Linked DNA regions of Homo sapiens: regions 1 and 3 are each reported to be linked to region 2. Evidence: microRNA targets listed by miRTarBase, many of them from high-throughput screens and not tested one by one. Region 2 holds a microRNA gene; each other region holds the end of a gene's coding sequence.

Region 1 (3,134 bases), not on the chromosome of region 2:
GATCCTCACAACAGCCCTGTGAGGTAGGTAGGGTTATGTATTACTGTTATGCCTATTTCACAGATGAAGAAATGGAGGTGGCTCAGTGAGGTGAGTGACTTGCATAAAGTCACACAGCATGTTAGTGGCTTCACTGCTTCTGCAACTTCTCTAAAGTCAAGCTGCTTGGATTAGGGAGCACCGAAAAGATGGACAGTTTTATGGAAAAGGAGAAAGGGCAGTGGTGATTTGTAAGATTTCTTCCTCAAATTGTTTTGTTATGACCACAGCTTCTGCTACTTGGTCTAAACTAGGTTCTCCATGAGGGGCTCTCCCAAGTACCCTTGGCCTGGGACAGCTGTCTTTTTTTGGGATGGAGTCTCTCTGCAATGGCACACTCTCAGCTCACTGCAACCTCTGCTATCTGGGTTCAAGCGATTCTACTGCCTCAGCCTCCCAAATAGCTGGGGTTATAGGCGCCTGTCACCACACCCAGCTAATTTTTGTATTTTTAGCAGAGACGACGTTTCACCATGTTGGCCAGGCTGGTCTTGAACTCCTGACCTCAAGTGATCTTCCCGCCTCGGCCTCCCAGAGTGTTGGGATTACAGGCATGAGCCACTGTGCCTGGCAGAAAAGCTGTCAGAGAGACTCCTGGGTCCCACCGTAGGGGGAAAAGGGCCTTTACTGCTCAAGGGAACTGGCGCTGCCCATGGCCCAGTGTACAAGCTCCCTACTCACAGGGCCTATCTATGGGAAGCCCCTTTCTGGGCCCACCTCCCATGGGTGCCTGTGTCACCAGGCTTCCTTGGCTTTGAGGACCCCTGCCCAGTGGGGGAGGACCCTGGGGACTCTCAAGGCCAAACTCACTTTAGGGATGAATCATGACGTGCAGTTTGGAGGCCTGCATGGCTCATCACCCGGTGGGAAGCAGTGCTTGGGTTGCTTGCCCTGGATGGCACCCTACAGAGACCCAGGGGTGGGACACAGGACTGCAGGGGAAGGCCGCCTTCCTGAGGGCAGGGTCTTAGGGGCCGCACATTTACTCTAAGGGCACTGTTACGGTTCATACCACTCCTGGGCTCCTTGCTGCACAGCACCCTTGGAGACCGTCTCTTTCCTCTGGATCTCCTCAGGGGCCGTGAATCTTCCTCTTCCAGCAGAAAATGGTCGAAAGGTATATGGAGCCACAGATGGTGGGGAAGGTGGGTGAAGTGGGGGTCACAAACGAGGTGAAGCTACAACAAAAGGGGACTGACTTACAGGGGATAGAAAAGAGCTAACTTTGATTCTGAAGACAGATCCCAGAGGGGAATCTGAATTCTGAGTAATGATGTTTTCAGAAAAATGTCTGGTCTCTCAAGGTGACTATTTTGAAAGCAAAGATATATAACTGGGTGAATGGGAAGGTCTGCAACCAAGATCCAGCAAGTGGCAGGACAGATTTTGGCTCAATATAGGGAAGAACTGTCTAACAGTCAGCACTGTCCAACCACAGCAGGAGCTGCCTTGGGGATGGCGCGCTTCCTATCAGCCAAGGTATGCAAGCAGGCCAAGGTGATCACTTGCAGGTACCCAGGGAGAGGCGCTCATCTTCAGATGTGCTGGGGTGTTCTAGGGGTGGGGGAGGACTAAGCAATCATCGAATTATTTCCAACCCTGAGAATCCGTAATAGATTTGTTTAAAATGACCTGTTTCAATGATACCTCAAATTTTTGGGAAAACAATGACAAAAGTCAGGTAACAGGCTGGATTTGGAAGTGATTTCATTACACTGGCTACAGATACTTGCACATTTTTGCAAAGATAGCAGACCCTTTCTAAAGCCAGGAATCCCTTGATTCAGCCCTATCAAGAGGGACATTCCTACCTTCTGAACTCTGCCTGGACACTCATTCCTCTAGACCCTGCCACACCTCATCTCTGACCCCCAAGAGGGGACACTAACAGAGCTCTGAGAATGCACAGCATTCCAAGCCAGCCAAACATGGTCACCCCTGGGCAAACATCCACGATCATGGATGCACCCTGGGGAGGGAGGAGCAGGTGTGACAGGAACCGCTGGGGACTTTATGTCCTGGTTAACTGGAGGTAGCCTCTTGTTCTCATCCCATCCTCTCCACCAGGGCCTTCTTACAGATGGATAAATGCGGCACTGGCTAGCGGTACAGAGAGATGGAGCCCAGGAGAAAACTGCTGCTCTTTTGTCCTGGCTGGAAAATCCTCCTATGGCCTCCTTTAGTACACATCAGCTGACTCTTCACTTGTCATAATAAACCGCCTGTCTGCAGCTCAAAATGGCAAGAAAAAAGGTGGTTCTGTTCAGAGGACACTGGATTCCAAAAGGTGGACTTCATCATGGGGGGAATCAAGTCCTGCTACACAATTAATACAGATTAGTATAGTCCCCTGCCTCGCACCACTGGCGAGATGCCCTCCAAGACCTGGCTGACATGAGCTTCCTGGGACTCCCCATCTCCAGTGTTGTTGGGGTCCTTTTACCTGTACCGTATTAATCGAATAATCTTATTGTTCATAAAATCCAGAGCATGTGGGTGAGAAGAATCGATGCAGAAGCCATCGCTCAGAGCGATTTTCAGTACCTCTTCCACGAAGACCTGGAAGCTGTTGATCTGCTTGTTGGCGGGCACCACCCAGAGCCTCTTGAGGTTCTGCTTGGTGTACTCCTCCTCTGGCAGGCCCTCCACATTGGCCACCCAGTCCAGAGTCAGGTGGTTGGGGTCCTGCAAGTGGCTGGTGATGGAGGAGAGATTGCCATTGGAGCAGTAGAAGAGCTTAGAGCCAAGGAGCTTGAGGAAGAGGCAGGAGGTGCTGAAGATGTTGGCGTTGAAGACCTCCATGCTGGAAGAGGAGAGGCTGTAGATCTGGGGTGCCTCGCGCACAGTGAAGTGGACCGTCTGCACACGCTGGTTCAGTGTGATGTTGAGCATGGCATTCTTCTCGGCCTTGGAGAGCTCCACTTCCTTCTCCTGCAGGGCCTCAATCAGGGGCTGCACCTGGTAGAAGTCGGCCTCCCTGCGGAGCAGCCCCATCTCCTGGAAGTCCTCAGGCAGGTCAAGGTGGGAGGTCCGCAGGAAGTTGAGGATATAGCGGAACACTTTGCCGTCACGGTCAATGAAGCAGTTGCCCTGGC
Region 2 (3,134 bases):
CTGCCTCTTATTCATTGCTTCTTGATTAGTCCTTGCAAATATTTTTCTTTCACAGAGAGAAAGAGTCTTTACTACTGTAGACCAATCAAATTATTTTGCTTGAAGTGACTGGTATTCACTTTCTAAGGCTCACATGTTCTACGTGTTGGGGGTAGCCATTCCTTCTTCACTACATTGTTAGCAAGTTCTAGGTATTAAGATATTTTGGATGCCTGAGCATTCTAGAAAGGTCAGCACCACATAGCCAGTATCTTGAGGTCCTTAATATATATTTGCATCTAAACGTCTCTTTAATGAATTCCATGTTTCATATTTGGAGTCTTAAATTAAAGTTCTAACATCAACAACTACTTAATCCTGTGTCTGAAAGATGATCTATGTAAGATAGCCTCACTACACAAATTACACCACTAACAGCTGCTAAAGTTGACAGCAAACTAAGGTTCCAAAGAGTCCCATTTGCTTTGTAACACAAAGAATATTATAAAGTGCCTTTCCTTTAAACAAAAATGTGTTCACATTCTCAAATTATACTTTATATACATATTTATTATTAATTTATTGACATGTTTCTGGTTTAGTTGCTTCTGGTTTATTCAACAGATATAGCTGTACAAAAATAAAGGGCAGGAGACGAGGGAAATACACAAAAGACACAAATCTAATTTTTAAAAATCATATTGTTAAATGAGACTTAAAATAGAATATTTAGTTGAAATTGATGCTAAAAGAAAAACGATTCATCTGGAAAGAAAGGTATTTAAATTCAACAGAAATATGAATTATCTAAGTGTAGGATCATAAACTGTCATGAACTAATTAGTAAAAATGAATTTACTCTATTATTTTTATTCTAGATAAAAAGTACTTCTAAATTTTAACTTATCTGTTTAGAATGAATGAACACATTCAACACAGTCAAAAATCGACACATGTATTACTGATGCGGAGCAGTCCAGGAATTAAATTTAAACAGTTTTAGGAGCAATAAATAAAACTCAGATGTTTGACCACTGCCATAACTCATTCAAATATTCAATAGAAACTCATCACAGAGTGAGGTCTTACACTCCATTCACTAATCCAATAAATAGTTAGTGCTCATTATGAGTAAGGCATTGGAGGGGATACAGTGAAAAATAAAACATGGACTTTGCCCTCAAGGGGCTTACAGTCTAGTGCGGAAAAAATCAGCAAGCACATAAATAGCCATAACATAAGGTAGAAAGTGATGTGTCATAAGGAAAACGCAAATAATGTGCTATGGGAGCTATTAACTCTAGCAGACATTTTTTATTATAGTGTCTAAGCAGCCAATATAAATAGACCAATGATCCATTTGAAAATTAAGGTCTGAATTTTGTTAATCTATAGATGATAAAAAGCTTTAATATTAATGCAATTTAAGTCACTACCTACAATTTTCTTAAAATGTTTGAACATGGAGTGACAACCCATTAGAAATACCATTTTGACATTGTTCATAAGCAGATACAAATGGAATAATCTAATAGGGCTGAAATGATCATTTTAATGTAATAAAGGCCCAAATCAATGATCCAAGATACTCATGACACATTACCTTCTTGCACACAAATTGGCTCAATCAGGTTAAAGTGATGAAGAATTCCTCGACGGCTCAAGTGTGCTCCAAGGAAAGCTAGAAGGTTGTACAGTTAACTCCCAGGGTGTAACTCTAAACCATACAACCTACTACCTCAACCCGGATGCACACAGCTTCCAATGTTGCTTCAAACTCCTTATCATATCTTCAGTCAGCTCCTCCAAATATGGCAGCCATACACCTAAGGGCTTGGCAAGGATATAGATATAATATTCTAACATTTTACCAGTAAACTTTGCTGCTAACTGTTTCTCATAGGACTAACCTAAACACTTGGGTTTCCAGCATAGGTCACGTAAAATGTCTTCTGACCATCTAACCTGCCATAGTTCTAGTCGCAATTAATAGTAAAAGTCAATTGCATTCAGCCTCATTTTTTCAGGAGAAATAGGCTCAATAAAAACATATAAATCCAATGGTAGTCTTTAATTTTCTTACTGAAGTTGAAGAGGTACACTAAGCACTACAGTATGCACTGAAGTTTCTGAACAGAATCTATTCAGATCCTGGTCCAAACCCTGCTATAAAGGTTCAACTTTCTTATGCAATTTACTGTACATGGAATCGAACTTGAATGGGTGTGATATAAACGCTTCCAAGTTGTTGAGAATTGAAGCCTGCCTTGTAAGACAGACAATGATTAAAATAAACATTAAAAACAAAGGAAAATATAATGACTTCAAAAGTATATAATCAACTGGAGTTTAACAGGATTTTACTGAACTATTGTTGAACGGCACTGTGTATAGCATTTTGTCAGATTACCACACTGACACAGACCCATAGAAGCGAGCTTGTGCGGTCCACTTCACCACAAGATCGGATCTACGGGTTTATGCCAATGGGCAACATCTTGCATGGGCCCCCTATTAATATAGAATTTGTTGTAAATATCTGATGCAATTAAGAGTCAAAAATAATATTGATCCTTTAGTATAAATGTTTTAAATGCTGAGTTCTAAGGATGCATATTCTCCATTAAAGGCCTTCATAAATATTCAAAACTAAATACAAATTTATATGCATGAGAATTTAAAAAGTAGTTTATTGAAAAATTTTTCACGAACTGCTTTTGTTTCAATAGTAAATATTTTGGAATTAAACTATTCTAATTGAGTTTTAAAAGAAAAAAGAATCCATACATGCATGTATGAATTATATAATTGTGAGGCATGAATGTAGTATTACGAGCCTATAATTAAAACCAAATTAACTATTAAGTTAATTGTGTATGAGTTAGACCGTGCTTATTTTAATTTTTATAAAACTAGTTTAGTTACTGGTTTCAAGGAATTGGTAACATTATAACTTTCTCATAAAACAGTAAGATCTTGTTCACTAGCTAGAGAATACAGGAAGTTATTATCAGCCTTAAATATATACATCTGTGTCTATAGTCGGAATGGTGCTAAAATTTACAATATTTGGATGAGTTAATATAAAACTAAACTAAATGGCACGATAATGGCATGATTACTAATACTCCACACTAACATTTATACTCCAGATG
Region 3 (3,134 bases), not on the chromosome of region 2:
AACAAATGGGTGTGGCTGTGCTCCAATAAAGCTTAATTTACACTAATAGGCAGTGGTATGGATTTGGCTTGCAGATCCTAGTTTACCAACCAACCCCTGATCTAAACTGCAGCTGTGAATCAAACATGAGAAAATGTCTGTGTCACATTCTTACAATCCTTTGTAACAAGAAGGTGAACCACCATCTGATCACATGAAAATAACACAGCAATTCAAGAAGGACACAGTGACTACAGTGAACACTGAGAAGTGGTCCTCAAAGTGAAAGAGAAAAATAAATGCCCTAATCAAACACAAAAGCAGAAGCAGAGCAATCAGGAATCATTTAAACCAAGGCCCTACAAACTTGAGGGCATCAGTACGTCAAAGAATAGCACATAACTAATGTTCACAATGAGGATTCTGAGTCAGAGGAAATGTTTAATTATCTTCTATATATTTCTATCAAAAGAGGCAAAGAAATGTATCAATTTAAACAAGACTGGCATAACTATTTCTGTCAATGAGTATGCATTTTCCACAGTCACTACCTGTCAAAGCCTGGGTCTGACTCATGTTTCTTTCCCACTCATTCCCATCTCCAGTGAATCAGCACATCCCTTTGATCCTTCCTCAGTCAAATGCATCCTGGCACTTTACAACTACTTTGGAAAACAGTTTACCATATCTCCTAGAGCTTGAACATACACATATCCAGTGATCCATCAATTTCACTTCTAAGTATAACCATAGCACTATTTGTAATAGCCCAAACTGGAAACTGCCAAGTGCTTATGAACAGAAGGAGGAGTAATTGGATTGTAGTAAGTTTCCATAATGGCATTCCATACACAGCAACAAGAGTGAACAATCTACAAGTACACACAACAATATGGATGGATCTCACAAATGTACTGTTGAGAAAAAGAAGCCAGGAACATGATTTCATTTATAAAATGTCTAAAAGTAAGCAAAAAGAAATCTACACTTTTAACAGTCAGGACAGTTACTTTTAGACCAGGGCTTATGACTGACGCCAAAGAGAAGTTAGTTTTGTTTTGTTTTTGTTTTGTTTTTTTGAGATGGGGTTTTGCTTTGTTGTCCAGACTGGATTTGAACTGGGCTCAAGTAGTCCTGCAACCTCAGTCTCCTGTGCCAGGCTTTATATTTTATTTTTTTGGATGGAGTCTCACTCTGTCACCCAAGCTGGAGTGCAGTGGCGCGATCTGGGCTCACTGCCACTTCTGCCTCCTGGGTTCAAGCAATTCTCCTGCCTCCGCATCCCAAGTAGCTAAGACTACAGGTGCGTGCCACCATGCCCAGCTAATTTTTCTGTTTTTAGTAGAGACGGGGTTTCACCATGTTGGCCAGGCTGGTCTTGAACTCCTGACCTCAAGTGATCCACCCGCCTCGGCCTCCCAAAGTGCTGGGATTACAGAGGTGTGAGCCACCGTGCCTGGCCTATTTTTTTTTTTTTTTGATTTTCATGCAGGTTACCTGGATGTGTTCAATTTGTTCATTGAAAAAATTCATTGAACTATGTATCTATGATATGGTACCTTTCTGTATATATTTCATGGTTTACTTTAAAAATTATGTCCTAGCTTTCAATGTTATTATACTAATCCTGAACTATTATACTGCTCATTTCATACCACTTACTGGTCTCTCTACCTCTAGTTCCTATCCTTTCCAATATGGTTCAAACACAGTTGTGAAATTAATCTACCAGAAACAGTTATTTCATCTTGACCCTTCCCTTGTACCCATCCTATACACAGGAGGACTGACGTTCACGTTCCTTTTGACTTACAGAATAAAGTCCACAATCTCTAATTTAGCTTCACATTCAATATAATACTCTATATATCCCACTCTACCTTCCAAACCTCTCTCCCTCATTATTCCCCCACAGCCTGCCCTTCCTGCCAGGTTACTACTGTACCATGTGTACTACTGTTTCTATGCTTTGTCTACATTTTTACTACCTATTATTTGTAGCCTGAATTTAGCCCTTCATCAAATAATATCCTGTGATAGCTCATATTGTCATTTAACGTTATGCTGTAGATGTCTTCTCTTTTTAAATTCAGGTATAATTTATATACGATAAAATGCATGGACCAGCCTGTAGTCCCAGCTACTCAAGAGGCTGAGGTGGGAGGACTGCTTGAGCCCAGGAGTTTGAGGCCAGCCCAGGCAAGATAGTGAGAACTCTTTGTTTTTTTGGAGATAGCTGCTTGCTTTGTCATGCATACTGGACTGTAATAGTGCAATCACAGTTCACTGCAGCCTCAACCTTCCGGGCTCAAGCCATCCCCCTGCCTCAGTATCCTCCCCCACCTCCCCAGCAGCTGGTACCTGGGACTACAGGTGTGTGCCACCATGCCTGGCTAATTTTTGTATTTTTTGTAGAGGTGGAGGTCTCACTGTGTTGCCCAGGCTTGTCTCAAACTCCTAGCCTTAGGTGATCCTCCAGCCTCAGCCTCCCCAAAGTGCTGGAATAACAGGTGTGGGCCACTGTGTCTGGCCGAGACCCCATCTCTTAAAAAAAAAAAAAAGCATACACTGTAAATGGTCAGTTTTATGAATTTTTACAATTGTATATACCCACATAACTACTATCACCAAGATATAGAACTTTTCCATTACTCCAGGAAGTTCTCCTGAACGCCTTACCAGGCAATCTCCCCTTTCCTGATGCAGAAAACTACTTTCTGAATTTTTACAACCACAGATTAGTTTTGCCTGTCCTTGGTGTTACATACATACCTTTCTGATAATTACACATTTCTATGTTCAGGAGAATGTGAAGGAGACCTCAGAGTGGAACTAAGGGGTGGTGTAGCAAGACCATGTCGACGCATCTCTTGGATTGCTCGTTCTCTGTTAGTAAAGATCAAACAAGAGAGATATATTCAAGCACCAGGGAAAATCAAAAAGTGGCAAACAAATATAAGAGTTATTAGCTAATTTGTAATAAATTACTTAGTATTACTATTAAATTTAAATCCTATGTCTTTGTACAATTTTTAAGTAGTGGATAAAATATTTCAATTAAAAAATTAAATATATATATATAGTGAGGAGCATCTTGCTTCTAAGGTATTATTTTAATGACCTAATTGCTTTGAACAATCTCTTATAGTGCATAT

What was found. Region 2 holds the annotated microRNA hsa-let-7c-5p (UGAGGUAGUAGGUUGUAUGGUU, at 1,700-1,721, opposite strand). A microRNA usually pairs through its seed, bases 2 to 8, with sites in the 3' UTR of a target mRNA and lowers its output. Matches are read on the target gene's strand: a 7mer-m8 pairs with bases 2 to 8, a 7mer-A1 pairs with bases 2 to 7 and ends in A, and an 8mer does both.
Region 1: the mRNA of KCTD21 is a reported target of hsa-let-7c-5p. Seed matches in the 3' UTR shown: 7mer-m8 at 2,069-2,075 and 8mer at 20-27.
Region 3: the mRNA of CEP135 is a reported target of hsa-let-7c-5p. The part of its 3' UTR that is shown has no 7-base or 8-base seed match.

The regions. Positions count from the first base shown.
Region 1 is chr11:78,171,294-78,174,427 of GRCh38, forward strand. KCTD21 (potassium channel tetramerization domain containing 21) reads right to left here. Exons shown (of 2, transcript NM_001029859.3): 2 at 1-3,134. The coding sequence ends at 2,479. KCTD21-AS1 (KCTD21 antisense RNA 1) reads left to right here. Exons shown (of 3, transcript NR_102281.1): 3 at 2,527-2,684. Among named protein-coding and RNA genes, the nearest start is that of KCTD21, 16 kb to the right of the region's middle. RefSeq lists an enhancer at 2,546-3,047.
Region 2 is chr21:16,538,425-16,541,558 of GRCh38, reverse strand. MIRLET7C (microRNA let-7c) reads right to left here and starts at 1,731; the gene lies at 1,648-1,731. All of the region lies in intron 6 of MIR99AHG (mir-99a-let-7c cluster host gene), which reads right to left. It overlaps MIR99A (microRNA 99a), which reads right to left and starts at 2,470; the gene lies at 2,390-2,470.
Region 3 is chr4:56,024,232-56,027,365 of GRCh38, reverse strand. CEP135 (centrosomal protein 135) reads right to left here. Exons shown (of 26, transcript NM_025009.5): 25 at 2,752-2,865. The coding sequence ends at 2,763. Among named protein-coding and RNA genes, the nearest start is that of CRACD, 23 kb to the left of the region's middle.